Linked DNA regions of Homo sapiens: all the other regions are linked to region 2. Evidence: fine-mapped expression QTL. A gene starts in region 2. Each other region holds a variant in brackets. All regions are shown on one strand. Distances are between the middles of the regions.

Region 1 (10,697 bases), 33 kb before region 2:
GGGAAGTTATGCTAAGTTAAAAAAGCCAATCTCAAAAAGTTACACAAAACACAACTGTTCCCAGGGATGTGGACAAATCGGAAGCCTGGTGCCCTGCTGGTGGGAATGTAAAATGGTGCAGCTGCCGTCTGCTGTATGGAAAACAGCATGGCATACTAGACACAGGATTACCATATGAGGCGATTCCACTGCTGAATATCTACCCAGGAGAACTGAAAGCAGAGTCTCAAACAGATACTGTACACCCATGTTCATAGCAGCATTATTCACAATGGCCCAGAGGTGGAAGCAACCAAAATGTGCATTGACAAATGGATGGTATACACACATAGTGGAGAAGTGTTCGGCTTTAAAAAGGAAGGAAATCCTGGCGTGACATGGATGAACCCTGACGACACTACGCTAAGCGGAATCAGCCAGTCACAGGAGGTCAACTACTGTATGATTCCACATCCACCAGGTTCCTAACGTAGTCACATTCATAGAGACAGAAAGTAGAATGACTGCTGGGGCCTGGGGGGAGGGAGAAGTGAGGAATTTGTCTTTAATGGGTACAGACTTGGGGAAGATGAAAAAGTTGCAGAGGTCGATAGAGGTGATGGCTGCATGGCAGTGTGAATGTACTTAATGTCACTCAACTGTACACTTAAAAATGATCAATTTTATATTATATTTTACAACTAAAAAATTTTGTTAATGTTATATACCTTATGATTCCATTTATATAACCTTCATGAGATAACAGGAAAACAGAGAGAGAACAGATTAGTGGTTCCCATGAGTTAGGAGGGGGAAGGGGCAGACGTGGCTAAGAAAGGATACTGTGAGGGAGCCCTGCAGTGATGAAACAGTCTGATCTTGATTGTGGTAGTGATTACACAAAGCTACACACGTGACAGAAACTGCCTAGTACCATAGAAACACACACACCAATGAGTGCATGTAAAATGGTGAAATGTGAATGAACTGCAGACTGTACCAATGTCAGTTCCCTGGTTCTGACATTATACTGTGGTACTACCACTGGAAGGAACTGGATGAAGGGTGCACAAAACCTCTGGGTACATTTTTTCTACTTCTTGTGACTCTATACTATTTCAAAATAAAACATTTTTAAAAACTTAAAACACATAATATGTATACGTAGTATAATAATAATATATTGTGTATATTAGCATTATAGATCATATATATTAGCATAATGTATATATTAGCATTCTATTATTCCACCAATATTCTGCCTAAATGCTCTTCTGAGTTTCTCAAAGAAGAAAACTGAATGTATTTATCACCTTCTTCTAAAGATCTATGTTTAAAGTAATCCTTTAATCACCCTGAAAAACTCTTATAAGAGAAATTACCTTTGTGAGTCATACATCAGACTTAGATACCTGAATTTACTACATTAAGGACTCAAAAGATTACAGAGCTTTGGACACACATTCATGTATAACAACTACATACTAACAGAAAGTGAGGGCAAGAGAGAAGAAACATGCTATGATAAATGCTTGACTGCAGGATGAAATCAACTACCCTCTCAACGCTAACCTTTCAGGGTAAATAAGAGAAGTTAAAAATAAAATAAAAACAAAAATTGTTATCAATTAGGTTTGCTGGAATCAAGAAAATTTTCAGCCTTTCTTTTGACCCTTCTAGTTTTTTGGAGGACTTCCATTAAATTCATTAGAAAGAAATTCATAAATTCAGCAAGTTTCTCCATAATGGAAATGTGTGAGAAGCTTGCAGAGAATGTAAGTACCAACACAAGTCTCTAACTTGATGCTAAAAGTCAAGGTTTTGATATTCATTTGCATTCCCTTTTGGAGAAAACTAACTTTACACCTGATTTTAAGTGACCATTAGATATCTGGAAACTTATCAGAAGTAAAATTAGTCTGTGGACACTGCTATGAAAACTTTATTGTCACAGAAATGCAGAACACAGCAAACCGTGTAACAGATACTATGCATTGTAATGGGCTCGCTCTCTAACAAAAACCAAACAAAACCAAAAAACAAAAAAACTAAGCCTAAAAACACAGACCCATGCTAAGTCAGTCACTCAGAGAGGAGAGTTACTAATCAGACTTCTGTTTTTTTGGCCTTTGCTTATGCGGTCTTGCAGACTCAGTGGCTGAGTGCAATACCTACTTCCGTTTCATGCAGGCTGTTTTTCTTCATACATAAAACCACTGGTCAGCCTGATGAATAGTTCTCATTCTTTTTGGAAAAGAACACTCCAGGGAAATCTAAACAGCTGAGACTCTGACAGCCCCAAGTGAGGCATGATCACTGCCTGACAGCACTGCCCAGAGGAGAGTTACCCCAAAACACCTGAAGGGCCCCTCTCGCTTCTTAGTGGTAATAGAGATGCTCCCTGGCCCGGAGCTCTGAACTGTCGTGCAAGACAATACCTAATCCAAAGTTTTCATGGTGCAAATGAATAAACAAAGAAAGGTCACACCTGTGAGAAGAGGCTCACTGAGCCTAGGCAAGGAGTCAATCTCCTGAGTCCTTGTCCATCACTCTTTCCCTATAGAACTTTCAACGAAATCATCATCTGCCTGGCAGATCTCTCTCTATGCTGGAACTGCCTTTCGGGGAGTGAAGCAGTTCCTGAATGTCTTAGAGTTGTGCTGTCCAATACGTCACCATTAATATGTGGCTATCAAGCACTTGAAAAGTAGCTAGTCTGGGCTGGGTGCGGTGGCTCACATCGGAAATCCCAGCACTTTGGGAGGTAGAGGTGGGCGGATTACTTGAGGTCAGAGGTTCCAGACCAGCCTGGACCAATACAGTGAAACCTTGTCTCTACTAAAAATACAAAATTAGGAGGGCGTGGTGGTGCATACCTGTAATCCCAGCTACTTGGGAGGCTGAGGCACAAGAATCCCTTGAACCTGGGAGGCGGAGGTTGCAGTGAGCCAAGATCGAGCCACTACACTCCAGCCTGGGCAACAGACCAAGACTCTGTCTCAAAAAAAAAAAAAAGAAAAAAAAGAAAAGTAGCTAGTCTGAACTGAGATTTGCTAAAAGTGTAAAATACACACCAGATTTCAAAGAGTACTAAAAAAAGAATGCAAAATACCTAGTTAATAATTTTTTTTCTTTTTAAAGCATGCAATTGGCATCTGAATCTCTGGTTAATAATTTTAAAATACTAATTACATACTGAAATGTTTTGATATACTAGATTAAGTAAAATACACTATCAAAATTAACATCATCTGTTCCTTTTTACTTTTTTAATGTGGCCACTAGAAAATTTGAAATTACACAAGAGGCTCACATTATATTTCTATTGGGCAGCTCTGTATTAGAGTATAAATCTGGAAAGTATTTGGGGGTCATTTAGAGTGACAGTTATGTAAATGCTAGGTAATAATTACTTTATAATAGTCCTAAAAAGGTATTTTTCAAAGTATCTGTTGGTCTGTACACTGACAGGATAACAAAAAGACTGTCTGAAATACACACTAAAAAAGAATGGGGTCGGGCGTGGTGGCTCACACCTGTAATCCCAGCACTTTGGGAGGCTGAGGCAGGCAGATCGCTGGAGGTCAGGTGTTTGAGACCAGAGAGACCAGCCTGGCCAACATGGCGACCCTATCTCTACCAAAAATACAAAAATTAGCTGGGCATGGTGGCAGAAGCCTGTAATCCCAGCTACTCAGGAGCCTGACGCATGAGAATTGCTTGAACCCAGGAGGCAGAGGTTGCAGTGAGCTGAGATCCTGCCACTGCACTCCAGCCTGGGTGACAGAGCGAGATTCTGTCTCAAAAAAAAAAAAAAAAAAAGAATGAGGATTGGGGCAGTTATTAACAAGATTCCTTCTTCAGTTGCAGCCTATAAAAGGAAAAAGGGAAATTACAGAAACTTTCAAATCCTCAAAGCATTATGTACTGAAGGAATAAGTCCACTGCTTTAAAACTTCTAAGGGGAACCCATGACATCTACTTAACATTTTTGACATTTTGATGTTTGTGCAATATTCTGAAGCTACTGATAAATAGCTTAAGCAGATAAATAATCATGAGGATGTAAAAACAAATTCCAGAAGAAACAGAAGTACACGTCTTCAATGAGAGGTGACTTACCTGGGTTGATGACCACCCAGCCACCTCGTTCCTGCTGGTGCATCCACGCCTTCCAGCCTCGGGCTCCCTTCTCCCCAGCCCGGGGCTCTCCACTGTCCCAAAAGGGTTCAAAGAATTCCACCTGTTCAGATTTTAGAATGGACGTTAGACCTCACTTGTATAAAACTGCTGAGTCAGTGGGCAAAATCCGCGCTGGTGGATATAAGAGAAGCTTATGATCCTTGAAATCATGTTTGCCATCAGTCTTTGAAGTAGATACATGCTACACACCCCAAGATAGAAAAAAGATCTATCTAGCGTGGCAGGCAGCTTCCAAGATAGCCCCCATGACCCTACCTCTGCCTTGTGGTTTTCACACTCGCATGTGAGCTGGACCTAGTGATTCCAACACACAAAATATGGCAAAAGTGATGGGGGGTCACTCCCGGGATTAGGTTACAAAAAGACCAGCTGAGGTTCAGCAAGAAGGGTCTCCAGATGGGTAGGAAGGGAGTAGTTTCCTAGTTCTTATCCTGCCAGGCCAGTCTAACCAGGGACAGTGGCACTGCCAGTTCACCTAGTATCACTGGACCCCCGAGCTAATTCCTAAAGTCATGCCGCTTTCAAGATATTTTGAGAGGAAGGTTCCAACAAGACAGACCATGAGCTACGTGACACAACCATATCTTAAGTAACTATATATTCCTAACACCTGGCACAATACTTACTGCCTAGCAGGGACTCAATAAACGCTTGTTGGCACAGATCTGAACAAGGCAGGCGACCAGGGAGTAAAAAGGTCTGCATTTTTTATTTTTATTTTTGAGACAGAGTCTCGCT[CT/C]TGTTGCCCAGGCTGGAGTGCAGTGGTGTGATCTTGGCTCACTGCAACCTCCACCTCCCCGGGCTCAAGCAATTCTCCTACCTCAGCCTCCCGAGTAGCTGGGATTACAGGCATGAGCCACCACACCCAGCTAATTTTGTGTTTTTTTAGTAGAAACAGGGTTTCTCCACGTTGGTCAGGCTGGTCTCCAACTCCTGACCTCAGGTGCTCTGCCCACCTTAGCCTCCCAAAGTGCTGGGATTACAAGCCTAAACCACCGCGCCCAGCCTAAAGGTCTGCATTTTAAAGCCTGGCCCCATTAGCACCTCCCTCATTCATTCGAGCATTAGGTGTGTGGTAAGCAGCTCACTGGCAATAAATCTTTCCCTATGGAACAGAATGTGAACACAGCAATGAACAGAAACGTGATCATGTTATCAACTGGAAACAGGACTGTGAAAGTGAGCCAATAACCTACTCAGTGAAAGCTTTTGTAAGAAACCTTTTGAAGAGGACAAGCAGGCTTCCAGTGGGCACAGCATGGGCCATGAGCCACAGGATTATCTAGCCTGAGCCCTGGGCAATGCCACACACGCCTGGAGGAGTATTGCCTCCAGGAGAGTCACGTCAGGGCAGGGCAAACGTCCTGACACGTCAGTCATCCTCAGAAAGGGGAACCAGGACGACTACGCTCCCTCTTTAGAGGTCTGGCTCTTGTAAGAGTGAAGAAAGAAAGTTTACTTAAGAAAAAAAATTTTTTTTAAATAGTGTGATAAATGAGTATAATCTATTTGTTTATTCCACAGAAACGCAGACCAGTAATATCAGACCTGCCTGTGTTAAATCACGCTACTGTGTTCACGGTAACAACGTCTCTCAGTTATAAAAGCAATATGGAATATTAGTAAATAAGAAACTTTATTCCAAAGTTGTCATGTAAATGCTTTGGAATCACATGTGCTATTCGTGTTTAAAACCTCAAGCACGAGGATCGGGGTCTCCCAACACTTTAGAGCAGTGGTCTTCGATGGGTCACATTTGTAGGCAGAACCCTCCACCCATCACTCTGTTCTTATCACAGAGGGTCTTAGGAAAGGGGCAGGGGGAGGGGGTGAGAGAAATTCTGATCCTGACCCACAAGGTTCCTTAGAGTCAGCTGAGAATCACTTCTGTAGTACAGCCTATTCTTAAAATCTCACAGCATGTCTTAAAATTACTCTGTTATATGGTTTATTAATGATTGATTATAGCAATTTAACTGGTATAATTCTTTAATCCAATTTTTTCTAGAGGTAGCATCATGATAAAAATGGTCTTTACTGGCAATTCATGAAACTCCCACATGACGGAGGCCTTGGCCTCTCAAGAAACACTTTTGAATGTTCACCATAAACTCATATATTCTATTTATCTTCCACTAGACATCTTTACAGAGTAGAAAACTGAGTTTTATTTAGTGGAAAAAGGGAAAAGATACATTTTCTTATATACATAGCTCTATAAAAATTCTTTATTTCTTCACTTATCTTCATTTATCTCAAACATTGGCAATGCTCGCTTGTCATCTAAAGGATTAACCCTTCCCCAATAAGGATCACTGTTGACAAGGTATCTCTGTGTAATTTCATTTGCAACTCTAGCGAAGATTGTGGGTACTTAGAAGGTTAACTGAGGAAGTGATGCAAGACCCAAACTAGAATGTGTAAGGGTGGAAGAGAGTAATACAAGGTTTAAAATGGCATGACAACTGTTTCCCTGACTAGGGGAGCCAATCAGCATTTAAACAAAGGCAGAAAGGGGATGGGGGGGAGGAGGGGAGGGGAGGAGGAAGGGGAGGGGAAGGGGGCAGGGAAAGGAAAAGGAAAGGAGGAACACAGGCAGGCAGGCAGGCAGGCAGGGTGGGAGGGTGAGTCCTCAGAGAGCCTTTATGTTGTGAAGGAGGGGGAAGCTTCTTTACCTATCCACATCTCACCATTTTCATTACAAAACTTTCCTCAGATCACTGGACTATTTCTGAGAATTCCTCCTCAGCAGACTGATATAAAGGAGGATATGATATTTTAAAAACACTACCACACCACCTCTCATTATCCACACCACCTCTCATTATCCACACCTTCCCCCTCTCCCTCCAGAGAAAGAGCCAGGAAGAGAGAGATGAGGCGAGCAGAGCTGGGTACCTGTCCTTTGGTAGGCAGATCTTTCACGCTGTCGGGTTTGAAGAAGGTGAAGTCCACCATGGCCTGGAACAATGAGATGGCCTTCTCAGAGTGGCCAGCCTGCCGCAGAAAGTGGCACTGCTGAAGAAAGAGTGCTGCGAACAGGAGGGCAAAGGGGAAGAAGCCTGGTTGATACCGTTAAAGGGAAAGAACCTAACTTCTCAAAACAGGCAATTAACACATTGAGAACACCTTTCACCTGCAATCACTATTAATTTACAAAGCTGTGATACATGTCTTGATTTAAAGCGTCTCACACAGTATTATAATCCAAGTATGTTTGTTCTAATTTTTGTATGAAAGCATCACAGAACACAAATATTAACAACAAAAACTATATATAGTACATAAAAATAAGTCAAGAGGTTGGTCTGAATGCTATCAAATAATCACAGCTCATTATCACAAGAAAAATTATAGAAAAAGGATGGCGTAGCAGATTTTTATCAGAAAGCAAAGAGCTGTATTCAGTTGATCACTAGATGGCATTACTCACCAGCAACTTTCATCCTATGTTCAGAGTCGGCTGTAAACAAATCAAGGTTCCATGTCTGAACATTCCAGTTCATCTTACTTTTGGTACAATTCCAGCTACTAAATAACACTAAGCTATTTGTGTAGATCACATACAGTGACAAATTCAAGACTCTGTGTCAGTGTGATAAATGCTTATATTTTGAGAGCAATGTATTTCTATCTTTAGATGCCAACAGTAATTAATACTCAATAACAGGGGTTGTGATCAAATAAATGCCTGCTCTGTGCCGGACACTGAGCTAGACTCGCCATGGATTATCTCGTTTACTGTGCAACACAGTCCTGTAAAGCAGGTTTATAGTATTGTTGCTGATGGAGAAACTGGGGCTCAAAGAGGACCTGCCCAAGGACACAAGAGAGCCAGTGAAGGGCAAACCCTTCAGGATTCAAGGTCAAAAGTGATACTCTCTGGCTCTGCATAACATGCAGCCTCCAACATCTCATTACTGTCAAAATTAATGTTCCAGGTTCCTTCAGGACACACCAAAAATGTTAACAGCATAATAATACCCAAAACTTCTATTTATGCAGTGGTTCCCAGTCAGGGCATCTCACGGACATTACTGCCTGGGACCCTACAATTGGGTGAGACAGGTACATGCATCTCGACAGATAAGGCCACCGACTGCCAAAGCAGTTAAGAGACTTGCCTATGTTTACTTGGCTAATCAGCAGAACCTTGTCCAGTGATATCTTAACTCTACTGGCCCTATTGCCCCCACCTGCCCTGGGAGCTGGGGGCAAATTTGTTATCAAAAAGAGTCGTAATACTTTTTTAAAAAAATCAGTTCTATCAAACAATTTAGACTTTTTCTAGAATAAATCAAAAATAGATCTTCATTTTCAAGTAAAGCCAAAAGAAAGTCTAACTCCTCCCACGTAACTGGATCTGGTTATCTCCTTACCAAACATGGCCTCTTCCGTGCCAGGCAACGCAGGGTGAGATAAGATGCTGCCGTCCTTAACAGCAGACAAAGTGCTCAAGCATTTTCCATAAAGACTGTGAATTTTTGATATCGAAAAGGTACTAAACTGGCTCTGGCAAAATAAAAGGTATTTCTGCCAAAGGGCTGTATTATTGGGATGCAAAAATATCAGTTTCTGCCACTCTTTGACCAGAGTGGAGGGCTCCCAGAACTCTGTGCAGAGCTTCAGCTTGGCCAGTTTCAGATCCACACTGCTCTGGTTGCTCTCAATGGCCCGCTCCAGAATGGCCAGCTTCTTCTCCAGAATGAGCTTCAGGGACCTCTTTCGCTTTTCCTGCTCTCCTTCCTCGATGGCATACAGGCCAGGACTTTTCATGACCTCGTCCTCAACAACAAAAACACCAATTTACAAATGCAAATGGACCTGGGAGATCCTGAGTTTCAACAATGCTTACTGATTTTCTTACCACCCCCTAGGGACTTTCTTAAACCACCAGTTTGCCACTATTTCTTTTAAAGAAAACCTGGATCCTAAAGTGCTTGTGTCACCTGATATGTTTGATCTTGTATTTATCACTTAATTATCCACTCTCTGCCATTTTAAGCTTTGATTTCTGCATCAATGACTAGCATACAATGCCTTGAAAGTCTTTTCTGAAGAGCAGACCTTACCAATAAAAGGGCCAAATGTGGCACAAAATATGGTAATTGTATGAGTGGTTCAAAATTAGGGATTCAGACAAACCTACAAGTTTTCGAAAGAGAATGCATGGCTCTAACTGGGTAATACACTGAACAGCCCTCTCTCTTTCACAATTCCGTGAGCTCTGCCTGTTCTGTTTGTACTTCAGGAATGCCTCTCCCTACCTGGTGAACATCTCTTCTTTCAAGATTGTGTTGAACTTCACCTTCTCCTTGGTAGCTCTTTCTCCTCCCTCAACACAAGCCATTCCCTCACTCCACTCCCAAGTTATACATTACAGCATTTACTACCCCAGGGTGCACTTATTCTTCGCATGTCCATTTTCCTCATTGGACTTTGAGCGAGCTCAGGGCAAAGGCTCTATTCTAATAATCTTTGTATGCCCAGTGTCAAATTTCCTCATTTGCTCAAAAATTGCTGCACAGTCCATCAGTTTGCCCAAAATCAGGAATGTCCTTCTAAGGTAAGAGAATTGGGATGGCAACACATACCTGAAAAGCAACAAATGCCATCCACAGCTGCGTATCCCGAGGATTCTCCCGCACCCTCCTGTTAAACTCCTCCACCTTGGCCTTGAGAGCCGCACTCTCGCTGTCTGGCTGTGCGTCTGGCTGCTTTGATTCCTGCTCTGGAGGACCCTGTCCTTGTAGCCAATGTGTGGTTGACTGATCATAAATCCCCAGAGGATTCAACCAGGTTGTAACAGGAGCCGCATCTTCCAAGTCCTTCACTGGTATAAAGGAGATGGGCTCAGATGAGGGAGGTTCAGTTTTACTGCTAATGGCAACTCCATCGATGTTCATTAATCCCACACTCTTCTTAGTAAAATAGCGTTCAACCTGCTTGCGTGAATGCTTCTTCTCTGTGGAAGTCCCTTCCCAAGATATGCACTGCTTCTTAGGGTTAATGCCAAGGCAGGAGTCTCCTTTCCTCTTGTATCTGATATTAGAAAAAGAAAAAAAGTTACTGAGGGAATACGTGTACTACCTCTGAATGACTAAAGGCGCATTAGACCTAAACTCTCGTTATGCAGGTTCACTGCATATAACCAAATTCACCTCACCTTCAGATTGTTTCTATTTGGAGATACACAAGGACTAGTAATTAACTTTCTTTCTGCCTGGCTTGACTTCTTCCTATAACACTTCAACTCTTCTTTAACATCTCATGAATTTAAGATCATGCCTGTCTTCTAGATCTTAGTAATTTCTATTTTCCTGGAGCCTTGTAAAGAACTGTCACACACATTATGTCATTTGATCATCACAGCCATATGTGACAGGCAAGGCAAAAATTATCATCCCTTCTCTTAACTGTTCCTAAATAAGGACACTGAGGCCTGGGAACCTGGATCATCTGTTTCCTAGACCAGTCCTGTTTTCTCAATATTTTCCTGTGTCCCTACTTAAGAA
Region 2 (10,697 bases):
AAGAAACCAGGATTCCCTGGAGAAATGGCCAACTCCAGGCCACAAGAGAAAATGTAAGTGATGATTCCTGGACATCTCTTAGGACAGAAAGCAAGAAAGCTATTAAATAAAGATGATTGGGTCAGGCCCGGCATGATGGCTCATGCCTGTAATCCCAGCACTCTGGGAGGCCGTGGCGGGAGCACTGCTTGAGGCCAGGAGTTCAAGATCAGCTTGACCAATGTAGCAAGACTCTATCTCTAAAAAAATAAATGAATCAGCCAAGTGTGGTGGTGCACACTAGCAGTCCTAGCTACTCAGGAGGCTGAGACAGGCGGACTGCTTGATCCCAGGAATTGGAGATTGTAGTGAGCTGTGATTGCGCCACTACACTCCAACCTGGGCGACAGAGTGAAACCTCATTTCTAAAAAAAGAAAAAAAAAAAAAGCCTACCTGCAATGGATTGAAATATAAACATTAAAAATTCATGACTTCATAATGAAAACAAAAAACTTCACACCTCACTGGTCACCTCTAGAAGTTACTGGGACCCCCAACTCATTATTCTGAAACTAACGAAAGGAATGAATCAAGTATTTATCCCAGGCTAGGCGAGGTGGCTCACGCACTTTGGGAGGCCAAGGCAGGTGGATCGCTTGAGGTCAGGAGTTCGAGACTAGCCTGGCCAACATGGTGAAACTCTGTCTCTAGTAAAAATACAAAAATTAGCCAGGAGTAAGCTGGGCGCAGTGGCTCACACCTGTAATCCCAGCACTTTGGGAGGCAGAGGCGGGCGGATCATGAGGTCAGGAGATTGAGACCACTCTGGCTAACATGGTGAAACCCCCTATCTACTAAAAATATAAAAAATTAGCCAGGCGTGGTGGCAAGCGCCTGTAGTCCCAGCTACTCGGGAGGCTGAGGCAGGAAAATGGCGTGAACCCGGGAGGCGGAGCTTGCAGTGAGCCAAGATCACACAACTGCACTCCAGCCTAGGCGACAGAGAGATATTCTGTCTCAAAAAAAAAAAAAAATTAGCCAGGAGTGGTGGCGCATGCCTGTAGTCCCAGTTACTAGGGAGGCTGAGGCAGGAGAATCACTTGAACCCAAGAGGCGGAGGTTGCAGTGGGCCAGATCTCACCACTGCACTCCAGCCTGGGCGACAGCTAGACTCTGTCTCCAAAAAAAAAAAAAAAAAAAGAAAAAAGTATTTATCCTGTCTTTCCTGCCTAACTAAACTGTATTCAGGGTATCCCAATAGTTCTTCATAGAATAATTGATGTTAATAAATACAGGAGGAATGATATAATTAGAAAACAACCATTTTGCAACCTCAATGAAATAATAATGAACCTAAACAATAATCATAAATGGCTGCAAAAATCATTAGGTGTAAGGTTCATGGGCTGCTTCATATGGGATGAAACAGGTTGCAAACACATGAATCCACTGGTCAATCTTAACATCACTAAAACAGAGAACGTTAGACAGGGCATCCTCCTGAAATGATTCCATAGCAAGTGCATTGCTCCCCCAATGAGGTACTTTCAACAAAAAGATTAAATCTCAATCTAATTAATTGACTAGAGGTAAATACCAGTTTACAGGAAATACTGGAATACAGAAGCATGTTAAGTGACACTATGAGGATTTGGTGGGAAACATTTACAGGACAAATGACACGGTTTCCTCAACAGATCGATCACATGGAATGAAGGAGAGGAAGAAACCGATTTATACTGAAAGAGACCTAAGGCATATATCCACAAAATGCAATGTTGGCTGTATTTTGGAAATTGACTTGGACAATCCAACTGTAAAATCCCATTTTTGAAACATCTCGTGAAATTTGAACACTGACTGGTAAGTGAAAATGACCAGAAAAGAATTAAGGCTTTTTTCCATTACAAGAGATGATGCTGTGTTTATATTTTTTCAAAAGACAATACTTTATAAAACATACTTTTACACACATTTTCCTGATTGTAGATATCCAGAGGATGTCAAATAAATACTATTTAAGAGTAAGACTCCTCTGCAAAAGTTCGATTTCCCCCTCTCAAAATAAAAGGATAAAGCTTTGACATGTTATTAAAGATCACTATCCTCCATCACCACCAGCCCAACCATATTTCCCAAGGCTCCTCTTTATGCCACTACACCTCCAGACAAACTAGATGATTTGCAGTTCTCACACTTTTCTTCTGCAGGACTTGAAGGCCCTGGTATACACTTCCCCCATTTTATTTGTCCAAATCCTACTCTCTTGAAGATCCATCCAAAACTTAGCTCCTGGCTAGGCACAGTGGCTCACGCCTGTAATTCCAGAACTTTGGGAGGCTGAGGCAGGAGGATCACTTGAGCCCAGCAGTCTGAGATCAGCCTGGGCAACATAGCAAGACCCTGTCCCTACTTAAGAAAAAAAAAAGTAGGCTGGGTACGTTGGCTCACACCTGTAATCCCAGCACTTTGGGAGGCCGAGGTGGGCGGATTATCTAAGCTCAGGAGTTCAAGACCAGCCTGGCCAACATGGTGAAACCCCATTTCTACTAAAAATACAAAAAATTAGCCAGGTGTGGTGGTGCATGCCTGTAATCCAAGCTACTCGGGAGACTGAGGCACAAGAATCACTTGAAGCCAGGAGGCGGAGGTTGCAGTGAGCTGAGATTGTGCCACTGCACTCCAGCCTGGGTGACAGAGTGAGACTGCCTCAAAAAAAAAAAAAAAAAAAGTAAAAGAAAAAAATATTAGTTCCTACATAAAGCCTTCTTTGAACCTTCTATTAGAAGTAATTATTCCTGGGCTGGGTGTGGTGGCTCACAACTGTAATCCCAGCACTTTGGGAGGCTATGGTGGGCGAATCACTTAAAGTTAGGAGTTCGAGACCAGCCTGGCCAAAACAGTGAAACCCCATCTCTACTAACAATACAAAAATTAGCCGGGCATGGTGGTGAGTGCCTGTAGTCCCAGCTACTCGGGAGGCTGAGGCAGGAGAATCACTTGAACCCAGGAGGCGAAGGCTGCAGTGAGCCAAGATCGTACAATTACACTCCAGCTTGGGCGACAGAGCAAGACTTGGTCTCAAAAAAAAAAATAAATAAATAAATAAATAAAAAGAAGTAATTAATCCTGCAGTTCACCTATGGTATCTGTAATATCCCACCTTGTACTATACACTTCTTTTAGGTGCACTCATGCATTCCTGCAACACGTAATTATTAAGTAACTACTATCGATCTGTACATCCAGAAAATATTTATTGAACACCTATTATACTTTGGACCTGTGCTAGGGGCTAACTATGCTACAATGAATAGACAAACACTGCCCAACCTGATAGAGATTACAGTCTAGTAAGGGAAGACAACAATTTTACACAAGAAATTACTCACAATTATGAGAAATAGGACAAGCGCAGTGGCTCATGCCTGTAATCCTAGAACTTTGGGAGGCTCAGATAGAGAATCGCTTGAGCTCAGGAGTTCGAGACCAGCCTGGTCAACACAGTGAGACCTCGTCTCTACTAAATATTAAAAAAAATTAGCCAGGCCTGGTGGTGCACACCAGTAGTTCCAGCTATTCATGAGGCTGAGGCAGGAAGTTAAGCCCAGGAGTCTGAGGCGGCAGTGAGTTATGACAGTGCCACTGTACTCCAGCCTGGGCAACAGAGTGAGACCCTGTCTCAAAAAAAAAAAAAAAAATTAGGAGAAACGTTACAGAAAGTGTAGGAACTATATTAGAGGATATAACAGACAGGTAAGACTCAATTGCGCCCTGTCACATATGGCACATAATTTAGAATTACTTTTTTTTCTTTTTTTTTTAGAGACAAGGTCCCCCCACCCCAGGGCAGGATGCAGCGGCACGATCATGGCTCACTGCGGCCTCAAACTTCTGGGCTCAAGCAATCCTCCTACCTCAGCCTCCTGAGGAGCTGATACTATAGGTGTGCACCACCACGCCTGGCTTTTTTTTTAAGAGACAGGAGTCTCGCTATGTTGATCATGATGGTCATGAACTCCCGGGCTCAAACTATCCTTCCACCTACAGGTGTGGGCCACTGCTCCTGGCCAGGATTAATTACTTCTTAAATGAACTATGTACCCCAATTTTGAACAATGCAGCTCTGCTGGAAATGTCTGGGACTTAAGTAAAATGTGTAAAGCCATAACCTGATACACACTAGGCCCTCAAGAATAAATGTTAGTTATTTTCACTGGGTGCTGTGCCCCTCCAGAGAGAAACTGATTAGGTTTTGGATACTAATCCCCTAGCTCTAGGCCGCTAAGTAATACCAATCTAATAAGCATTTCAGAAATAAGTATAACAGGAAAGGAAGTAATATGTAATAAAAACATTCTGCATTTGCATCAAGGGTTTCCTCGAGATGTCGAGTATCATTATTCCCAATTTAAAGATGAAGTAACTGAGGCTCGAAAAGAAGAACAGGACCTAACAACATCGTACAGAAGTCCCAGCTCCAGGGCATCTGCTGGTCTTTCTCCACCCCTCCATAACTCTACAACCTTGGTCCAGAACAGGCCTCTGGGCCCCAGACCTCGGAGGGATTGAGCCTTTCCCAGAAGGCTTTGCAGCGCCGCGGAGAACTCTGGGATACAAATGGATACACAAATCCAAAGCAAAAGTCTAGACCTGGGCCCGAGAAACAGCCTCTTAAGCCCCCCAGGTGCCTTCTTCGGCTCGTTTGTGTGCTTACCTTTCCTGGAGCTCCCGCCATCGGGAGCCTCACTAAGCCCCGCAAAGGCTGGGAACAGCGCCATGACCACAGGCCGTACCTCCGTTCTTCTCTATAGGGATGGCGCCGGCGAGCGAGCGCCGGTCTGAGGACCCCTGCCGTCGCGGTGCACTCTGGGAAATGTGGTTTTCGCGGCGCTCTCTGGGGCTTGACCCCGAAGCGGGAGGGGCGGGGCCCAGAGAGGAGGGTCGTCAAGGGACTGGGGCGCGGCGGGGCAGGGAGAGGCAGGGCAAAGCAGGGTGGGGCGGGGCCAAGGGGGGCGGAGCGAGGAGTGACGGGTTCCTAGTGGTTGGGACCCTGTGAGAACCGGAACTGCGAAAACCGGAGAAGGGAATTGTTGACCGCGAAAGGGACTAAGGAAATTGGGATTCCAGTTCGACCCCTAAATTCACACCATCCTTGCTAACTGGGTCAACTTAAACGCTCTAAGCATTACTTTCCTTATCTGCAAAATATTGAGAAGATTAAATGAACATATTTATAAAGGGCCTAGCATTGAGTCCGGCCCATGAAAAGCACTTAATATGTGTTAGCTATTATGTGAATTACGACTGCAAGTTCGGCTCAAAGTCATGTGAGATATCCGAACTTCAATCAGGTTACCATATTAAATACCCCAGAACAAGGAAAAATGGAAAGTCCCATCAAGTTCAAGGGTCTTTGATAGTTAGGAAATACCTGTCTGTGAAGCATTCTTGACCCCGGTTCCTCCCACCCAAAATCTAATCACACTTGCTACCAGAAATATAGAGAGTAAAGGAACAACTTAGAAGACTTTGTACTACCAAGAAACAATTAGCCAAATCTAGAATATGGGAAATTATAGAAAACAACCGTGCTTCCTTAACATATCAAGGGCTTTAAGAGGGCAGGAGATTGTAATAGATACGAAGATCTTACAGACACATCAAGCAAATACAACATATTTGTGGCCTCATTATAATTCTGATTGGACAAACTGTAAAAAGACCTTTTTAAGATAGATGGAGAAATAAGAAGGTAGGCAGAGTACAAGCAATTCACAAGTAATTCTTGTGAATTCTGTTAGATGTACTAAAGTACTTATGTCACTGAGGTGACCCTTATTTATTTATTTTGAGACAAGGTCTCCTTCTGCCACCCAGGCTGGAGTGTAGTGGTACGATCTCTGCTCACTGCAGCTTCGAACTCCTCGATTCAAGCAATCCCCTCACCTCAGCCTCCCAAGTGGCTGGAACCACAGGCATACACCACCATGTCTGGCTTAATTTTTTTTTTTTTAATAGAGACAGGGTTTCACCATGTTGCCCAGGCTGGTCTCGAACTCCTGGGCTCAAGCGATCTGCCCCCCTCTGCCTCCCAAAGTGCTGGGTGCCTGTGCCTGAGCACCCCCCAACCCAGCCTGAGATTACTTTTTAAAGTTCTTATATATTAGAGATATATACTGAAATATTTGCAAGTGAAAATAGATAGGTAAATGAAGATATATTTATTGGGATCCTAGGGAGTTAAAGATCTTTAGTTAGGAAATACATTATAAACCAGAGATGCAAATGTAATCATCTAATCAAGGAATGGATGGACTCTGATGAAGTCTGCAGACCTGCATAAGAATTAGGTTCTATGAGTCCAAAATAGACACCCTTAATGCTTTGAAGTCCCTGGCAGAGTACTTACAAAAAGGAGCTTAGTATGACAATAGGGGCAGTAATTCCTGTATGTCTTCAACTTTAAATCTCAGGTTCTGCCAAAATCTTTGACTCTAAGTTACCTCAATTAATTGGGGCAGCATTTGTCTTTCTTAGCAGATCACTTCAGGTAACTGGGATGGAAATAGTCTATCCCAATGCCTCCTATCTTTCCACCCCAGAAAAGTAAGAATTAATATGGAAGTTTTAAGAAATTAAAACCATAATAATAATGTTTCTGTAATACAAAGGAATCTGGGTATACTAGGTATATTGTGTACTTACAAATGTATAAGAGAATGTTGCTCAAGAGACCCTCCTCATAAGAACAACTGAAAGTGTATAATCAAGTAACTGATACAGACTCCTGGTTTTAAGTTAAAATCTTTTTGTGTTTGTTTTGTTTTTGAGACAAGATCTCCTCTCTCGCCCAGGCTGGAGTGCAGTGGTGCGATCATGGCTCACTCCAGTCTCGACCATCTGCCTCAGCACCCCGAAGTGCTGGGATTATAGGTGTGAGCCACCATGGCCGGCAGTAAATTGAAATCTTAATGAGGTTTAAGCAGTTTCAGGATATCCAAGAGAATCTAAAGCTCGCCATATTTGTAAGTGTAATTGGTTAGCTTTATAAGAATAATGGGGTCCTATTGCAGGAGCATGAGGGAGGCTGAAGATTCCATTTCGAGGCAGCTCTGAGCTCACGAAATAGACACCATGAGCAAAGCTCACCCTCCCTAGTTGAAAAAAGCTTTTGGACAAGAAGTTAGAAGCCTTAGAATGAGTATAAATAATGGCTGTTCAACAATAATAATAACAATAGGAACAAACTACTGATACATACAACATGAATGAATCTCAAAATTGGTATGCTGGGTATAAAAAGCCAGGCACAAAGAGTGTTTACTGTGTTATTCTCTTTATACAAAATCCTAGAAAATACAAATTAATATATAGTGACAGAGAGTGGATCGGTGTTTCCCTTGCTCTGGGAACGAAGAGAGGGATATTCCACAGAGGGGTGTGGAGAATGTTTTGGGCTTGATGGAAATATTCTGACTCTTGTTTATGGTGGGGGTATCACAGGTGTGTAACTGACCAAGTTCTTAAAAGCTTAAGAACAAACAAGGGTTTTCAATTTGTTTTTAATACATTGGATGCCAATCTTTTAAACACTGTGTCTGCAAATTTTTTTCTGGAAAGAGTCACATAAAACATATGGTATTGGCTGGATGCAGTGGCTCACACCTGTAATCCCAGCACTTTAGGAGGCTGAGGCGGGTGGATCACTTGAGGTCAGGAGTTTGAGACCAGCCTAGCCAACATAGTGAAACCCCCGTCTCTACTAAAAATACGAAAATTAGCCGGGAGTGGTGGCAGGCACCTGTACTCCCAGCTACTCAGGAGGCTGAGGCAGGAGAATTGCTTGAACTTGGGAGGCAGAGGTTACAGTGAGCCAAGATCGTGCCACTGCACTCCAGCCTGGGCAACAGAGCATGACTCCACCTAAAAAAAAAAAAGACATGTGGTCGCAACCACACTGAAATTTGAATTTTATACAATTTTCACATGTCATAAAATGTTATTTGCCTATTTTTTCAACATTTATATACGTAAAAATCATTCTTAATGCATAGGTCATACCAATTGGCAGTGGGCTAACCTGACCTATTGCCGTAATTTTCTAGACCTATGCAAACTTTTTATTATTAGAGTCAACTAAAAGTAAACTTTTGAGTAGTCTTCTCTGCATTGAAAAACAATCGCAGAAAGAATAAAAACAACTCACTTTATTATTATTATTATTATTACTATTTCAATCTATAGGCTTTGGGTATTTCCAGTGCATATGGCAGGGATTTCTCAGAATAAACAAAGATGTTTTCAGATAATGATTTGGCTTTGTATATAGCTTGACTAAAGGAAGGGACTGAATTTCTCAACCACTTTTAAGTATCTCTCTTCTTTGTGGCAGAAATAACTCACTCTAGACTGTTAAGTTGCTGTTTTGCATCTATCTCATTCTCTGGGGTATTCTCATTAGCCTGTATTTGTCACAGATCTTGATCGCCTCTGGACCCTGACATGAGTGAATCTTTTCCCTGAAGATGGCAGGAAGGAAAAGGAAAAACAAAAACAAAAACAAAAACAAAAATCCTGCAGGAGAGAAATGTGAAAAGAGGCTTTGTTTTAGTTGCAGAGGAGTTGGATAAGAGTTTTGATCTTAATAAAGCAGGCAGCTAGTCTGTCCATAAAAAACAAACAAGAGGCTGGGTGCAGTGGCTCATGCCTGTAATGCCAACACTTTGGGAGGCCAAGGTGGGAGGATGAGGTGTTTGAGACCAGCCTGGGCAACAAAGTGAGATGCTGTTTCTACAGAAAAAGTTAAAAATTAGCCAGGCATAGTGGTGCATACCTGTGATCCCAGCTACTTGGGAGGCTGAGGCAGGGGGATTGCTTGAGCCCAGGAGATCAAGGCTGCAGTGAGCCATGATCGCACCATTGCACTCCAGCCTGGACAACAAAGCAAGACCCTGTCTCAAAAAAAGAAAAGAAAAGGAAAAAAAAAAAAGAACGGAAAAGAGGTGGGTATGAGTGAGAGCTAAAAACTATAGAAAACAACCTTTAGGTTATTCCAGAAGACATGATATGAACAAAAGGATCGGCAAGAGGCAGCTAGATACAAAATAGGTAGGTACTCAGTACTTGTTTGCTGGCAAAATACTGCATACATAATTCCCACTCACTTTTGGAAGAGGATATTATAGAAAAAGGAATAGGGGGCCAGCCATGGTGGCCCATGCCTATAATCCTAGCACTTTGGGAGGCTGAGGCAGGTGGATTGCTTGAGCCAAGAACTTCGAGACCAGCCTGGGCAACATAGTGAAACCTCGTCTCTATCATTTTTTAAGTAAAACTAAAAAAGGAAAAAGGAATAGGTAGTGAACATGTTTTATTTTGTTTAACTGGCAGGCTCCTTTCTGAATCCACAAGAAGTCCTATCAGTACAATGTGGTCTGGCTGTCCCAGCCCCATCTGACAGGTTAGGGTAAGTGCATGACCCAGCTCGGTCATGTCCTTAGTTGATAGGTGCTCAACCCAGCTCTGACCCAAGCCAGGCCAAGCAAAGTTCTTTTCCATGAATTTTGAAACTAGAACTGAAAAGGAAAAAGTTGTCTGTCTTTGTGTGTCTAGACTGCAAGATATAATAGTCCAGGAGCTGGTGGAGAAGCAGAGTAAACTGCCTGTAGAGAGAAGATAAAACCAGGAGTGAGCTGGACAGGACGGGCCCTGGGATTTTGGAACTCTAATTCTAATTCTCCCTGGAGCTCTGCTGCATTCCTATGCTTGGGTTCTAGGAAACCCAATATCAATATCATTATAATACATCTCACATTTCAGTAAACAAATTCTGCCACTTGCTACCAAGAGTCCTAAATGATACAAAATGAACAAGTGAATGAATAAATAAATGATACCATTTCCACACTCAAAGTCACAAACTCAGAACCTGAGGGTACTCCAATTATTAATAGTTCGAATGACAAATGACACTTTTAAAATGGTGTACTCAGAACATGTATAAACAAACTTCATTCACCTTAAGAGGGAAAGAATCCTCACTCACTGATCAAGAAAACTGGAGAAACGGGTCTATCAACTCCATCAATCTTTAGGAATTTTCTGGTAGTTCCTATGAAGTCAAACAAAAGAAAATGTGCCCTTTGGACAGAAATATCAGCAAGGAAATAAAAGAGCCTGAGCCACTTCACTGGTGTGATCTTTTTTCTGTTTTATTTTATTTTGTTTTGTTTTGGGGTGATGGGGGTCTCAGGTTGGAAATGTCTCAATATGTGGACACAATCCCAAGTAACAGATCTTCAGTCATAGCTAAACCAGCCTATTTATGCCTAACTCACAATTCACGCACTCCAGAACCTGCTAAAATACGTAAGGTTATGCAGAAATTAGAGAAGAATGACACCAATAACACTTAATAACTATACCGCCATCTAGAATAATCATTAAGAGAACCCTGCTTGGGTTTACTGTGCTATATGGAGGCTGGTGTATTCTGGGTGAGGACATTTTTAAGAGCCTTGGATAAGAGTGACTTTAACCAGAGTTTTAAAAGGTTAAATCAGTATTCTTGGGTAGCTCACTCTTAAACTAGCCCCTCTTCCCAAAGTGCTCTGAAACAATTTTCAGCTTTCGTTGTGATTATAGCTCTTCCAGAAAGTGATAGGTTTTATGTTATGTTGATAGTGAAAGAGATCAATGAAACAACACAAACCTC
Region 3 (10,697 bases), 62 kb before region 2:
AAAAAAAGCCTGAGCAACTTGGTGAAACCCTGTCTCTATAAAAAATTAGCTGGGCGTGGCCGGGCGCAGTGGCTCACGCCTGTAATCCCAGTACTTTGGGAGGCAGAGGCGGGTGGATCATGAGGTCAGGAGTTCGAGACCAGCCTGGCCAATGTGGTGAAACCCCGTCTCTACTAAAAATACAAAAATTAGCCGGGTGTGGTGACGTGCGCCTGTAGTCCCGGCTACTCGGGAGGCTGAGGCAGGAGAATGGCATGAACCCGGGAGGCGGTGCTTGTAGTGAGCGGAGACAGCGCCACTGCACTCCAGCCTGGGTGACAGAGCGAGACTACATCTCAAAAAAAAAAAAAAAAAAAGATTAGGTGGGCGTGGTAGTGCATGCCTGTAGTCCCAGCTATCCAAGAGGCTGAGGTAGGAGGGTCACTTGAGCCCTGGAGGTTGAGGCTACAGTGAGTCATGATCACACCACTGCATTTCAGCCTGGGCAACAGAGTGAGACCCTGTCTGAAAAAAAGAAAAAAAAAACTGATGCCTGACCCTTCCTCAAAGATTTTGATCTATTCATCTGGAGTATGGCCAAGCCTAGGAGCCATAGTGGAGAAGTGCTACTTTAAAAGCTCTATTCTGAGCATGGTGGCTCATGCCTATAATCCTAGCACTGTGAGAGGTCAAGGCGGATGGATGACTTGAGGCCAGGAGTTCAAGACCAGCCCGGCCAACATGGTGAAACCCCATCTCTACTAAAAATACAAAACTAGCCAGGTGTGGTGACACACATCTGTAGTCCCAGCTACCTGGGAGGCTGAGGCAGGAAAACTGCTTGAACCTGAGAGTCTGAGGTTGCAGTGAGCTGAGATCGTGCCACTGCACTCCAGCCTGGGTGACAGAGCGAGACCATCTCCAAAAAAAAAAACAAAAAAAACCCACCCTATTCTGCAGTATCAGATTCATTTGGTAGAGCTCAGGACTTAGAAGTTCATTGCTGTGCAGATTCCAAAGGAAGCACAGTCATTTGAGAGAATTGACAGTGTTCCTAAGAAGATCCGTGCTGAGGGGTACCCACAATGGAGAGACGGAGACACCTGTACCCAGAGGCCGAGAGCTAGAAGAGATCCCTCTTCTACAGCCCCTCATCTTACAGCTTAGGAAATTATGTTTCAGAATGGCCGGTGACTAGCCCAAGGCCCCTGTGGGAGTTGAGCTAGTAACAGGGCTGGAGCTGGAACACAGGCCTCCTGACCCACAGCTGCAGGCCCCCTGTGGGGCTCTAGTACTAAAGGGGCTGCGGTACAGGGCTGGGAGGCAGGACTGGACAAACAAGTCTGTCAGAGGAGCGGGCAGCTTGTTCAGTGAGCCCTCTGACCGCAGAAGCAGCCCACTGGCTAGACTTGGCTGCTTCTGCACGATAACATCCTATCCACTGGAAAGGTCCTATTTGTTTTCTGTTCACCTTCCCTCATTGATGCTTTCAGGGAGCAGTCCAGCCTTTGCATCTGCTACTCTGCCTGTCTAAAAGCAACATCATTGCCACATGTTGCAAAGCTGAGCTTTGTGTCAGCCATCCCATTTCTGGAAAGTCTTCCCTGTCACACACCAGCTAGCCACCTCCACACTCCTCCCGTGCTGGCCCGAGGCTGCCAGCTCTGCCCCTAACTGCCTCTGTATCCTGAGGCACCTACCCAGCCCTTGTCAAGGTCCTCACTGACCACCAAAGGATCCCAGGTCTTCCAATTCAAAAATTCTCAAGTTGGGCACTCTTTGCTGACTCTTGTTTTTCTTTTCTTTTTTTTTTTTTTGAGACGGAGTCTTGCTCTGTCGCCCAGGCTGGAGTGCAATGGCGCGATCTTGGCTCACTGCAATCTCCGCCTCCCGGGTTCAAGCGATTCTCCTGCCTTAGCCTCTCGGGTTCAAGCAATTCTCCTGCCTCAGCCTCCCGAGTAGCTAGGATTACAGGCATGTGCTGGCTAATATTGTAACTTTTTTAATAGAGACGGGGTTTCTCCATGTTGGTCAGGCTGGTCTTGAACTTCTGACCTCAGGTGATCCTCCTGCCTCAGCCTCCCAAAGTGCTGGGATTACAGGCGTGAGCCACCGCGCCTGGCCAGCTGACTCTTGTTTTTAACCTGAAACAGAAATATCAGCAAGTAGAGCAGTATTGGAAATGATGTTTGAGCTCTTCCCTGAGATCAGTGGGAGGAACTGCCTCTCCCTTGGAAGGGCATGCCACAGCAGCTCTCACTGTGGCGTTCATCAAGAGCTGGTCCTGTCTCAGCTGTCTGAGCTGGCAGCAAGCCCACCCAGTAGCTACTTTTCTGGAGCAGTAGGCACTGCATGCCTGGAGCTCAGGAACACTTCGTGTATCTCCTTAGGGCCAAAGCTAGGATTCCCAGACCCTTTTTTCCAGCACTGATGGTTTCCTAGGAGTTTACTTTGGCTCTACAGCCCTGGGTTGGATGGGTCAGGTTAATGTATGCAACTTTGAAGGGGCCCAAGACAGACTCAACCAGAGAAAAAAATGAGATTTATTTCATTACTGGAATGAAGCAATTCTTCGTACAGGTAATTATAGTTCGCAGCTTTTCAGGGGAAACTGGGTCAAGGTTGGAAAATAACCAAGTAAAAAGTATTTTCTGACGTTATCATAAGTTCAGCAAAATAGCTAAGGATAATCCAAACATGTTAGTAGATTTTTCTAAATGTCCTCTTATCTACTTAGGAGAATGGAATGTCGTGACACTTGAATTGGTGCCATGCCTTAGCATGAGGGCCCGCCTGTTTTTGGTGTCCATTTAAGGTGGTAATGATACGAGTTTTTAAGTTAAAATGGCACTTAAGGTGTCTTTTTTTTTTTTATCTTTTTCATCCAAAATAGGTAAAACCTTGTTAGCCAAAGCAGTAGCAAACCAAACCTCAGCCACTTTCTTGAGAGTGGTTGGCTCTGAACTTATTCAGAAGTACCTAGGTGATGGGCCCAAACTCGTACGGGAATTGTTCCGAGTTGCTGAAGAACATGCACCGTCCATCGTGTTTATTGATGAAATTGACGCCATTGGGACAAAAAGGTAGACTTTCTCATACTTATTTTGCCTTGTTTAGTAGGGAACACCGCATAGCTCTTCTCTTGAGAATGAGCAATCTCAGGGGGCTCTCCCTATGGCCACAGTTCTTGCTGTGCGTGGCCTTCCATGCATGCTTTAGGCTCTGCTCTCCCAGGAGCCAGCTAACAACTGCCCAGTAACTGTGAACGTCTGGAGAGATTGGTCAGTTATGAATAACCATGTCTTGAGCACCCGCCCTGATCCAGGACCATCTGGACTCTAGGGACACAGTTGTGAGCACAAGTCTCTGCCCTGGAGGAGCTCACAGGTTGTAGGGATCAGATACCAAACATGGAAACAGAATAAATGATACAATTTCAGACACAGAAACTGCTATGAAAAAATATGATCTGTAACTTGGCTGATGGGAGCGTCTTAGTCCATTTGTGCTGCTAAACAAAATACCTTAGGACTGGTATTTGTATAAAGAATAGAAATGTATTTCCCACAGTTCTGGAGGCTGAGAAGCCCAAGATCAAGGCACTGGCATTGATGTCTAGTGAGGGCTGCTCTCTGCTTCCGAGATGGCACCTATTCTGCAGAGGAGACAAATGCTCAGGGGACAAACAAAAGAGCAAAAAGGGCCTACACTAGTTCCCTGCAGCATTTTTTATAAGGAATACATGCTGTATAAGGCCTTTTTCTCTTTTTAGAAGGAACTCATGCTGTATAAGGCTCTGCCTCATGCCTTTAGCCCTTTCCAAAAGGCCTCATCTCTTAGCCACACAGTAGGGATTAAGTTTCAACACATAAATTTGGGGAAATACATTCAGACCATGGCAAGGGGTGCTGAATTTATTTTTTCCGAGCATAATTGAGGGAGTGCCATGTGAGTTGAAACAGGAATGTTTGTTAAGGTGTTTTGTCACAATGAGGTCTTTGCTGTAATTCCCCTTGAGCAGGCGATCAGTTGAGTCTTCATTCCTTCCCTTTTTTTTTTTCCAAAGATATGACTCCAATTCTGGTGGTGAGAGAGAAATTCAGCGAACAATGTTGGAACTGCTGAACCAGTTGGATGGATTTGATTCTAGGGGAGATGTGAAAGTTATCATGGCCACAAACCGAATAGAAACTTTGGATCCAGCACTTATCAGACCAGGTTAAATTTGCTTTGGTTTCATCATGGAGATTAATGTGTTTATATATTTGTGTTTAAGTGTGCTTTGGGAGGCCTATAAAATGATACATAAAAAAGCAAATACTGCAGTGAAACTTAGGATAATTTACAAAAAAATAGGTCCTCTTGAGATGAGGGTTAAAACAGAGCATGATATGGTCTGTGCACCTTGGCCCTTTGAATTCCAGTCTTATGTCTTGTCTTTTCTTTTCCATAACATTCCCTTTTTAGCCTCAAGAACTTGCTGCTTTTTCTGGAAGAAATAATTCATGTGATGGTAGGATTTGTCCTTTTTACATTCAGGTAGCATCAGAAGAAACAGTGATTTGTTTGCTGTCTTTTGTAATGTTTTTAACACAATAGGTCTGCCCAGTTTCACTCAGGAATTGCTCCTTTCATTTATTTCTGAAGGTACCAAAGCAGAGAGAGTTTCTTTTAAATGAAGAGAATTCAAATGTAGAAATCTACAAACTACAAAAATATATGTTTACTTTTTAAAATTTAGACATCCTTCCCACAGAATTCTGTCCGACTGAAACTTCGTATGTAAGGAGATGGGCTGAGGCCTCTGAGCCATGGCCGAGCCTGGGTTTGGATGTTGGTGTGACTTCAAATCTCTTTGTACCTGCAGGCCGCATTGACAGGAAGATTGAGTTCCCCCTGCCTGATGAAAAGACGAAGAAGCGCATCTTTCAGATTCACACAAGCAGGATGACGCTGGCTGATGATGTAACCCTGGACGACCTGATCATGGCTAAAGATGACCTCTCTGGTGCTGACATCAAGGTGAGAGCCTAGCCGTGTCAGCTTATTTCTGGGAATGTGGCCGTCAATCAGGAAAGAGTCTATATGTGCTCTTGGGATGGTGGTTGGCCTGGACAGGTGGGTGTCTGTATTTTAATCATCATATTGGTTTACGATTACATCCAAATGGTATATGTGCTTGATATTGAAGTCATTCTTAATGCATCATTTTATGCAGTGAATGACGCTAAATCACCTGGAGCCACAAGGCTGAGTCGCTGGTACTAAGCCTTAGGCCCAGGTGACTTTCTCAAGGTGTGTCAAATGTAGCTGCTCAGTCCCAGGTCAGGGGAAGGGTATGTCCTGGGAGAACTCTCCCCAGAGCCGCAGAGTGGGGACCAAGCACCCGCTGCATTCATCTCCCAATCTGTGTTCTGGAAGGTTGTACCAGATTATACTTCTTGGTTTTATGACAAATGTACATGAGTTAGGACATTTCCTCCCAGCTGACCAGAATTTACAGCAAGGTCTGGCAGCGTTGAATATGGGTTCTACCTGCTTTTCCTGGAAAGAGCTGGGTTTTCGTTGGGCATAAATGCCATGGTTAGGTAGGGACAGCACAAGCAGTGCCTTTCCAGGCCAGCACCTGCCCTGAGCCCACGGATCATTGGCAGTTAGTCCTAGAGAACTAGATGTCTCTGTTGGCAAGTAAAATCTATCTTCTTTTTTAAAAATTGAAAGATCTTAAA[A/ATTTTAT]TTTTAAGATAAGAACTTACTTTGACAATTTTCAAGCCTTCAAAAAAGTTGCAACAATAGCACAGTGATTTGCCAAGAGTTAACATTTTACCTGTTTGCTTTTTCTCTTTCTATACACAAAACTTTCTTTTCACCCGAACCATTTGAAGTAAATAACCTGATGGCCATCACCAAACAAACTTCTGTGCCAGGATTGTGTTTTTTGCCACATCTTGTTTTTGCCACAGTAATTACTGGCCAAAAGAAAAAGAAAACAATAACAGTAACCCACATAATATGTTTGTTTGCTGTCCTTCTCTATCTATTTCCTTCATTTCTCTTTCCTTTCTAAACAGATCAGGCCTAAAACAATAACAGTAACCCATGTAACATGGGTTATTGTTTTCTTTTACTTTGGGCCAGTAATTACTGAGAAATTAAATATATTGGAATAAATGCTATACTCTGTAGTATTATTCCATAGTATAGATACTGCCACTTACAGTATCTAACCAGAATACATGTTCTTTTATGACTATAAGTAAATGAAATAGACATATACTGTCAATTGCCTCTAAGTTTCAGGGCATAATTTTGTTTATTTCCTAGGAATATTATTCTCTTTAACAAAAGTGGTGTTGTACAAGCCACATAGCTTGTTAGAACCTGAGCCAAAACTAGAACCCACAGCCCTGACCCTTGGGTCAGTCTTAGTTACAGTAACTCCCAGTTTAAGCCACTTCACATCCTTTCAGAAAATAGGATGCTTAAAACATTTTTTTTAAAAATCAAATCTTTCCCAAATAAGCAATTTGTGTTTAGTCTAGGTGTCTCATGCTTTATTTCAGAACAGATTTTTTTTTTTTTTTTTTTGAGGTAGAGTTTCGCTCGTTGCTCAGGCTAGAGTGCAGTGGCGCGATCTCGGCTCACTGTAACCTCTGCCTCCCGGGTTCAAGCAATTCTCCTGCCTCAGCCTCCCGAGTAGCTAGGATTACAGGTGCCTGCCACCGTCCCTGGCTAACTTTTTGTATTTTTAGTAGAGATGGGGTTTCACCGTGTTGGCCAGGCTGGTCTTGAACTCCTGACCTTAGGCGATCCACCTGCCTCGGCCTCCCAGAGTGCTGGGATTACAGGTGTGAGCCACCGCGCCTGGCCTCAGAATAGGTTTTTTGGAATTCCTTGTTAGAATAAAAATGAGTATGTCACTTTCTGAACACACTCTTCTTTCTTACAGGCAATCTGTACAGAAGCTGGTCTGATGGCCTTAAGAGAACGTAGAATGAAAGTAACAAATGAAGACTTCAAAAAATCTAAAGAAAATGTTCTTTATAAGAAACAGGAAGGCACCCCTGAGGGGCTGTATCTCTAATGAACCATGGCTGTCATCAGGAAAATGGTTGGGAGATTTCTCAATCCCTGAAAGGGATGAGGTTGGGGGAGTTGCCCAGAGGAATCCCTGTTCCCACTGATTTTTATTAGCAAAACATCCTGTGTCTTTTGGAGTACGATGTGTAAGTGCCCATTGGGTGGCCTGTTGGTCACTGTGCAGCAGTCTGCTTCCCAATAAAGCGTGCTCTTTCACAAACACTTCCTGTTTCTGCAGTCTCCACACACACCTACCGCTCAACAGCAGCCTGTGGGTGGACCCAGCTACAGGGAAGCCTTTGGACAGGAACTCAGGCTGCGGTCCCAAGGAGTGTGGACCTCACTATGCGTTCGCCACATCACACCCCCAGAGCTGGCGTTCAACGGTAATTACAGTGGGAAATGGTCACTACCACAGAGCCAGGGATATTCGTTGTTTAAATAATAAAGGCTGCGTTAATGTGGCTATTGCTTCCAAAGGAAGTACAGCTTTCCTTTTTGGAAGTTTTGTGGACCATGCATGTTCTTAGCACTCTGAGGGCAGAAAATAACTACTGGTGTTCCCAAGAGACTGAGGATTCCTAGAGATATCTTGAAAGCCCTTCTGAGCCCTTGGGCTCAGAAATCTCATCCCTTTCAAGGTGTTCAGAAACATGTCAGAACTTCCCCTTCCCTTTCTCCGTCTATTTCCGTCATTTCTCTTTCTGAACAAATCAGGCCTAAAGCTATTAAGTGGGACAGATCAAGGTAAGCGTTCCCTTGACAGGTGGCCTGGTGTGGGTTGTAGGGCCCACACTGAATGAGGAGTGTGTATTAGTTTTCTGTTAATACTATAACAAGTTACCACAGGCTTTGTTTAAAAACAGCACAATTTGGCCAGGCACGGTGGCTCACGCCTGTAATCCCAGCACTTTGGGAAGCTGAGGCAGGCGGATCACAAGGTCAGAAGTTTGAGGCCAGCCTGGCCAACATGGTGAAACCCCATCTTTACTAAAAATACAAAAATTAGCTGTGCGTGGTGGCAGGTGCCTGTAGTCCCAGCTACTCAGGAGGCTGAGGCAGGACAATCGCTTGAACCCAGGAGGCGGAGGTTGCAGTGAGCCAAGATCCCGTCACTGCACTCCAGCCTGGGCGACAGAGCAAGACTCCGTCTCAAAAATAAATAAATAAATAAATAAAAACCACAATTTTATCTCAGTTCTGTAGGTCAGAAGTCCAACACGAGTGTCTCCAGGCTAAAGTCTTGCTGTTGGCAGGACCGTTCCCTCTGGCGTCTCTAAGGGAGAATCCGTTTCCTTGCTGAGGATTATTGTTGGCAGAATTTAATTTCTTGGAGTTGTGGGCCAGCTGAGGTCAGCATTTCCTTGCTGGCTGCCAGCTGAGGCCTTTGCCAGTCTGTGAAGGCCACCCTCCCTCCTGACTCGTGGCACTTCATTTTCCACCAGCAGCAGCAGGCCCAGTCCCTCTCTCCCACCGACCCTTCTTTCTGCCTGCCTTTTCTATTCTTATGGATCCTTGTGATTGCATTGGACCCATGCAGATGATCCAGGATAATTTCCCTGTTTTAAAGTTTACAATCTTCTTAATTTTTATCTGCAAAGTTCCTTTTGCCATGTAACATTCACACGTTCCAGGGCTTAGGGTGTGGCCATCTTTAGGGGCGCCACTCTGCCTACCACAGAGGACATCCACACGTGGGGGTGGCCCAGTGCAGGGTAAGGACGGGGTGCTTGTGGGGAGGGCGGGTGTCAGCCCAAGTAGGGTGTGGAGCTGTCCATGTGGAGGAACACCACAGCACGGGGACTCAGCATGGGCAGGGTGAGGCTGGCATCCGTGTGGGGTGTATGTGCAGGGCTGGGGTGGTCCGATAGGGGGAGTCAGTGTGGGCAGCCTGATGTGCAGTATGAGAGCCCAAGTGGGTGAGGAAGGCATCTGCAGGGACGGGGTGGTGGCAGGGGAGGGAGGCTGCTTATGTATGGAGGCAGTCAGGCAGGTAAACAGGACAGTGGGAGCCAGGTTTCTCTGAGGAGTTAGACACAGAAAGAAGAAAACAAGAACGACCTCTGTCCACTGGGAGCACCTGGGAACAGTGACACCCCAACTGCAGTGAGCACCCCTAGACCCAGACCTTTGCTGCTAAAAGTATTATTCTCCACTAAAAGGAGTGAGGGCTGATTCCGGGGCTAGGCAGGGAAAGGACAGGATGAACCCAAAGTCTGTTTTGCCAGAAAGCAAGGGAGTGCTCAAGGAATGATAAGGACATGTCCTAAGGACACCGAAGCCTATGTGAAGGGGCTTCCACTGGCCAAACTCGGGACAATCTGAGCATCCTAACAAACAGTTACTATTAATGGAATACAGTATAGCCCTTTAAATAGGGAACTACACACACACACACACACACACACACACACACACACACACACACACACACACCCCAATACATATGAATTGATCTGAAAGTTTGCTGAGGAAGGGGTATTTACAGATTTTGAGAGTCTGCCACAAAACACTGTTCAGTTAGAAAGGGAAAGTCACACTGGAGATGCCCAGCAGACACCGTCTTCACCAAGTGGTCAAATGCACATCATCAGTAATGGGCACTTTGAAAGTACGTGCCACCCAAGAGTGTCAGTGCTGTCACACTCCTGCCAAAGATGCTTAGCCTGAATCCAGTGCTGAGGAAACACCAGGCAAACACAAACTGAGGAACATTCTACAAATTCAGAACACTTCAAAAGTATCCACGTCTTGGAAGTCAAAAAGCTTCCAATCAGAAGGAGACCAAAGAGATGACAACCAAGTGCAGCTCCTGCTCCTGAACTGGATCCTTTTCCTAGAGGACATGACTGGGCCTGAGGACCTGCTAGGAGTACTGCGTCCATGCTGACTTCCTGTTCAGTGTCTGTATCGTGGGCGGGTAGCAGACTCTCAGCAACTGACTCACACGGTTCAGGAAACAAAATTCTTTGTAACGCACTTGCATCTTTTCCTAAGTTTGAGATTAAAAAAAACAAAAAACCCCAGCACATCAGTATTGCCTTTTCCTCATTGGTAATAGCTGAGCGTTTTCCTCTAGAGGGACAGTCTCCCTCATGTCAATTCTACAAAAGCAGCTAAAGCAAATGCCAGGGCCTAGAGTGTCAGGGTAGCGGGCTGAACTGCGCCCCACCCCAGCTGCTTCTCCAGTTTGCTTACTGACCAAAATGCTGAAATTACCGTTTCGGCAGCTGGTCACTGAGGCCTGCGGTGCCAAGTGCAGGGATGCAGGTATGAAGTGCTTGTGAAATAACAGAATTCCCACAGTAATTTCTTCCCTGGCTTCCTGCACTGGTGAGCCGGACAGGGAGAACCCCGTCTGCCTGCGGAAAACCCACTGGCTCTTTGGAGCCCTTCCTCAGTAGAACAATTTAAGGTGAACTCTCCCATCACTCCCTCTGCAGCAAGCCTATCTTCACTTTTCCAATGCAAAATGATATGTGTGCCTTACAAGTAGTAGCTGCCTCCTCCTACTGGGAACACAGCACAGAGGTGCCTCCTGGCCTCCTGCAGGCCCAGCAATCCTGTGCCAGAGGCATTGCCACTGCTTCATTCCAGGAAAGAACACTGTCCCAAACCCGAGGTGGGCCGACCCCTGTGGTCTGA

Which allele goes with the higher level. Positions count from the first base shown, and alleles are read on the strand shown. Sizes are in standard deviations (SD) of each study's normalised expression. Not every link is listed here.
With allele A in place of ATTTTAT in region 3, the expression in tibial nerve of the gene that starts at base 4,798 in region 2 is higher (small effect, 0.27 SD a copy in GTEx).

Evidence for each region.
Region 1: its variant is fine-mapped to the expression of NRDE2 in whole blood (TOPMed, PIP above 0.99).
Region 3: its variant is fine-mapped to the expression of NRDE2 in tibial nerve (GTEx, PIP above 0.99). The same link has a PIP of 0.9 or more in subcutaneous fat.

The regions. Positions count from the first base shown.
Region 1 is chr14:90,294,159-90,304,855 of GRCh38, forward strand. NRDE2 (NRDE-2, necessary for RNA interference, domain containing) reads right to left here. Exons shown (of 14, transcript NM_017970.4): 5 at 9,777-10,224; 6 at 8,562-8,967; 7 at 7,081-7,214; 8 at 4,102-4,222. Among named protein-coding and RNA genes, the nearest start is that of NRDE2, 32 kb to the right of the region's middle. RefSeq lists a silencer at 8,647-8,941. The variant CT/C (reference allele first, on the strand shown) is at 4,921.
Region 2 is chr14:90,327,144-90,337,840 of GRCh38, forward strand. It overlaps NRDE2 (NRDE-2, necessary for RNA interference, domain containing), which reads right to left and starts at 4,798. Exons shown (of 14, transcript NM_017970.4): 1 at 4,698-4,798. The coding sequence starts at 4,761. RefSeq lists an enhancer at 4,552-4,731 and a silencer at 4,882-5,031.
Region 3 is chr14:90,265,352-90,276,048 of GRCh38, forward strand. PSMC1 (proteasome 26S subunit, ATPase 1) reads left to right here. Exons shown (of 11, transcript NM_002802.3): 8 at 2,873-3,062; 9 at 4,046-4,197; 10 at 4,847-5,001; 11 at 6,922-10,078. The coding sequence ends at 7,056. It overlaps NRDE2 (NRDE-2, necessary for RNA interference, domain containing), which reads right to left. Exons shown (of 14, transcript NM_017970.4): 14 at 2,509-10,697. Among named protein-coding and RNA genes, the nearest start is that of PSMC1, 14 kb to the left of the region's middle. The variant A/ATTTTAT (reference allele first, on the strand shown) is at 5,709.